Linked DNA regions of Homo sapiens. The protein of the gene in region 2 purifies or fractionates together with the protein of the main gene of each other region. This does not show direct contact. Each region holds a gene or a part of one and is shown on either strand. Other genes may lie near its edges.

What was found.
Region 1: the proteins of NFYB (region 2) and HMGA2 fractionate together in Homo sapiens (co-fractionation; one large-scale study listed by BioGRID). This does not show direct contact.

What each region holds. Positions count from the first base shown.
Region 1 is NC_000012.12:65,960,483-65,963,636, reverse strand, and holds part of HMGA2 (high mobility group protein HMGI-C), read right to left. Parts: intron 393-3,154; coding exon 345-392; 3' UTR 1-344.
Region 2 is NC_000012.12:104,116,586-104,118,898, reverse strand, and holds the end of NFYB (nuclear transcription factor Y subunit beta), read left to right. Parts: 3' UTR 1-1,813; downstream 1,814-2,313. UniProt on the Homo sapiens protein: Component of the sequence-specific heterotrimeric transcription factor (NF-Y) which specifically recognizes a 5'-CCAAT-3' box motif found in the promoters of its target genes.

The DNA of each region.
Region 1 (3,154 bases), about 38 Mb from region 2:
CTCACCCGCCCACTCTTGCTTATCAGATCAACAAACTATTAGTAGGTTAAGAAAAAAGAAAACAGTAATTAAAAGTTGCATTGTTAAGCTGTGTCCCCTGTGTTTACAGCAGTTTTTCACTAAACCTGGGACTGTGAAGGGATTACAAAGAAGGTGATTAATATAGTCCTTTTTAAGGTTATGTGATTTCTCCCCACCCCACCCCCCCCTCCCCCACCCCACCCCACCCCACCCCAGATGAAAGTGGAAAGACCATGGCAATACAGAATAAGTGGTCACTGCAGTGTCTTCTCCCTTCAAAAGATCCAACTGCTGCTGAGGTAGAAATCGAACGTTGGCGCCCCCTAGTCCTCTTCGGCAGACTCTTGTGAGGATGTCTCTTCAGTTTCCTCCTGGAACACACAAAGGGCACAGCCATGACGCTCAATCGTTATACTGTGTGGGCTGCTCTTGCCAACAGTGCAGAGGTAACCTGTTTCCACAGCACATTATGCTTGCCTCAAAAGAGGATGACGATGACTGGCGAGCCCTCATTCCCAGGGCTTCTTAAACCGTAATTGAGGAATCAAGGTGTTGTTTTTTCCCAGAGCGGTCATTAGCCACTGTTGACTTAAGGCTTGACATCATGGCGGCTGGTCAGCAAATTCAATTGTTTGCTGTCCAGAGAATGTCAGGGCAATGCACGCTTACTCACCAATTAGAAAAAAAGTAGGAATGGATAAATTTTTCCCGACAGCATGCCATTCATCAGTTTTAAAAACCGGCACACAAGAAAAATAGAGTTAGGGGGATCCTTTCTTAAGGTATAAATGAACCCACCCTCCAGATACTGGTAATAATAGCTGGTATTTTTAGAGTGCTTACCAGATGCTTAGGCACCTTCTGTTAATATTCCTGTTTTACATCTGAGAAAACCAAGGCACAGACAAGTAATGTGCCCAAAATTACAGGGTGTGTGGGACCAGGATTTGGGTCGGGTTGGTACTGGTGCCAACACCTGTGTGTGACCCCTACACCACTGTGCAGAGGCAGTGTGAGAGCAGGGGCAGAGCTGACAACGAGCCTTCCCAAATCCATTTCCTCCCCCTTGTATTTATTAAAGCACATTTTGAGACAGTGACCCAAGTTCGGCGTTAACTGCTCAATCTCAATACTAATCCGCATCGACCAAACATTTGATGGTGGGCTAGCCAAGCAGAGAAAATCTAATATATATGTTTTTGCAAGGCCCCCTCTTCATATAAATCTAACTCCTCCTTCCCTTTTCCTTTTTCTGATTCCTTATGGCTCTGGAATTTGTTGGGGTTTCTGCGAGCCGGCTTGAGCCGCAAAGTTCTCTTTCCTTTTGCTTATTTAACAAATGTGCAGTACCTTTCAGGACATGGGTGGTAAAGCGGAGACAATAAACATTTCCGATAAAAGCGTCGTTAGTGAGAGGATGATTTTTATCAAATGCTGCACATTGTCTCATAAGACGGCATGTGAAAAAGATCTGGGGGAAGAGGTAAACATTTACTCCTGCAGCAGACCGAGCCCCTTTAAGAATGGCCAGCTTAAAACAGCTTATAACAGTCTTCATACTTTAATAGATTTGATTTTCCACATGGCTTCATTTTGTCTGGGTGGCTAACCGACACAATTTATACCTCTCTTCCTTTCCCAGGTCACTACAGTACACCATTCAGTAAAGCATGCCTTAAAGCTTGTCTGCATTATATGACCAAACTTCCATTCATTAGTGTTTGAAACACTTCAGCTGTGAAGGGGCTCCTAAATGCTACCATGTGTGATGCTTTTGCGTAAAAGCAGCAAATGGGAGAAAAAAACCCCACAAGAATGGGCACTCACACATTCACATGAATGCACACACACACACATACACACACACACACACACACTCTATCCTGGGCTTTAATCACAGGCCACTGCATACTTCAAACCCTTTGCAAAAGGTTTCAAATATTCTCTTTCCCCCCGAAGACTGAGCGAGCTGTAAATCCTGGGAATAAACACACATACAAATGAATGGATTACAGCTTGAAAAATATAACCACGGCAGCATCAAGTCATGAGATTTCACACCGGTTTTGTTTAGTCTGCTTTGGGTTTTGTGGGAAAAGTGGAACGTATGAGGCTACCTCCCCTTTAACTCCCAACCCCCAAACTGTGGGCTTCACATATTTAAGCAGCAGGTTTATACCTCTTGACTAGGCAACAGGCCATGACCCTGAGATTCTCTGTGGAGCCCTGGCCACAAAGGAGGATGTAGCATGATCAAAGCCATGGGCAGACGAAAGAGAGACGAGCCAAAGATCAGCTGCCCTGTGACCCTGTCCTTTCACTTAATATTTAAATTCCAGAAAGTCACTAAGCTGTTAGGCAGATACACACCTCGTTTGTCCCCAGATGATTCACTTCTCATTCTGACATGAGGTGTGGACTTAGGTGACTACTCTGAAACAGACCACGGCATAAAAGCCAGCAAGTATATTTTATTCCTTCTTACGGTTAAAAAATTGATAGAACTCAGTCAAGCTGGCAAACCTCCTGGATTGTGCTGTAATTATTCAATTTCTAACTGTTTGATTTTTCTATACTATCCGGAAACCAAGGTACTTTCAAATCCGGAAGGAAACAGAATTTTCAGGCCATGAACTTAACAAAGACCTTGTACTAGATGGAATGTGATCAGCTTTTCAAAACATTCCCAGAAACTTTGCTTGATGTGAGCTGCTGAAACTCCTGAATTCCAACCCTTTAGACACAATTCAGATGAAAATGGTGGTAGGTCATATTGTTTCCTTAACTGTCCTTAAGACAATGTGGATAAGACAATGTGGATAGTTGTTTTATTAATGTATCTTTCTGCTGACCTTAGAATTCTACTAGTAACTATCAGTTAGTACTGGGAACATGACTAGGATGTCAGAGGGTGGAAGTCTCACTTCATTAAAGGTTTGGAGGCAATGTGGCTCTCACATGCTCAGAATGATGGTTTTCTCAAATGTCTAGTTAGTGGAGAGCTCTCTCTTCTTGGCATAGCCCTGGCTGGCCACCCTTCAAAGGAAGGAATGGTTCCCAAAGGGTTGATGTGGTGGGGCAGGTGGCTTTTCCCACCTCTGCAAACCTCAGCTCTCACCTTCCCAGTGACTTG
Region 2 (2,313 bases):
TCTCTTACAGAAGAGGAGTTTTATAGTCTGATGGTAAATGTCTTCATTTTACCTTTTTAATTGAAATGTCAAGTTTCCTGTTACACTATGGAAACCAAGAAACATCAGACATCATTGCGTGTACAGACCTTTTGCATGGGTGAGTGGATGAAATGGAGAACAGAGTGAGTGCTGTGAACGGTGTGAAATAGAAGCCAACTTCTAGTATGCTGTCTTCATCTCTGCAATAAACTAAACGTAAATAATGTAACTTTGTATAATTTAGTAGTATGTACTTGGATTGTTTCTTTTTGAAAAGTGAGGATTTGTATTTTCTCATCTATTCTTTTTGGTGTTAATTAACTTGAGGGATTTCTTTTTTAAGTTTTTAATATCAAAAATTGCTATTGTATAGTTTGCCTAAAAGGAAGTTGGAGTGAATATCATCTTTGAAGGACACTCAAATTTATAAGGTAGAAGCAATTTCCCAGATATAGGCTGAACAGAAACATTTACTTTGCCAGAAGGAGCCTTTAGGAGTATATGTGGGCTAATCAGAGGTTAATAATGTCCTCATCTCCTACTCTCCATTTAAAAAACAAACTTCATTGTAGTAAATTCAAATAGGAAAAAATGGGGGAGTAGTTAAGCAAAATCAACAGTCATCCTACTATGTTGAAAGAACCAATGTTAATATTTTGATAAATATCATTTGTCCTTTTACTTTGCTAAATATGTATATTTTTATAAAAATGGGCTCATATTGTGCATACCATTTTGTAACCTGCTTTTTTCACTTAACAATATATTGGGAACATCTTTTCCAGGTCATGCATAGTCTTCTGCATCATTTTTATTGGTTTATTATTCTGCTGTATGACTCAATCATAATTCATTTAATCTTCTATTGGATATTTTGACTATTTACATCTTTTCACAGTTATAAACAGCACTTCACTGAATCCCATGTACATCCATGACTGTTTTCTTAAATTCTTTGAATTGCTGGGTTACCAAATATGCAAAATTTTAAGGCTTTTGATACTTCGTTATGAGTGTATTTTTGAGATATTTTCCACTTGATCCAAGCAGTGTGTCACTATATAACTGATAAAAGCACTTGGTCTTTGATTATCAGATACTGTCTCTAAAATTATTTTAAAGATTAATATTTGTTCAAGTAGAGAATGAAGATAAAAAAGGAATTTGAGGCCAGGTATGGGGTGTCTCATGCCTATAATTCCAGCACTTTGGGAGGCCAAGGCAGGCAGATCACTTTGAGGTCAGGAGTTTGAGACCAGCCTGGCCAACATGGAGAACCCCCCGTCTCTACAAAAAATACAAAATTAGCAGGGTGTGGTGGTGCACACCTGTAGTCCCTTACTCCCTGGTGGCTGAGGCATTATCCCTTGAACCTGGGAGGCAGAGCCTAAAGTGAGCCGAGATCGCGCCACTGCACTCCAGCCTGGGTGACACAGCAAGACTCTTGTCTCAAACAAACAGGAATTTGAGTAAATTTTAAATTAGTATATACTACAACAAATTTCCAAACTTCATAATTTGCTAGTAGTGCTAACTAAAATTTTACACCAGGTAAAATCAGGTCACCTTTTTTATGTATTGACTTCATTGTTGGACTTCATACTCTGATGGGAAAGAAAATGGACATTCTGAATGTGTCAGGTGCATAATATCCTAATTTATGCTTGTCAGAGCTGGGGTCTCTGTCTTCCTTGGCCCATGTTGCATTTAACTGAATGTCATGTTTTCTCCTCTGGAACTTCTTATGTATGCAAGCTCCCATGTTAACCTATCATAAAAATGTTTTTTATAATTTTGTAAACATTGCTTTCTTGAGTATCTAAGAGAGAAATGGGTTTCCGTGAGTGAGTTCCAGGTAGTAGAAGGGGACTTAGGTAGCTTCTATCTTAGATAGCTTCTATCTATCCCCTCACTACCTCACTCTAACGGAGATGCTTTAAAATCCTCTTGAGTCCAATGAGGATTGTTTTTTAAATGCTGCCTTCCAAATGTCACATACTTAGATATGACAGTGTTTGAAGCTATTTGTATTTTTTTTCCCCTCCTACACTGTATTATGTGTGCAGTGTTTTCCTTTCTTCAAAAACATGCCTTATTGCCTGTTTTCTGGGTTGTCTTAGTGAGTTAAAGGAGTACCAATTAACTTTAATAATTCTAATTGAATATAGTTATGAGGGCCCAATTAAAAGGACTTCTACAGCAGTAGAAATTAGGCATGAAAAGTGGAAAGAATAGTTTCTCCCATTTGCTAAGAATGAAATCTTGCAATGCAAGATTTTTAAAAAATATTTT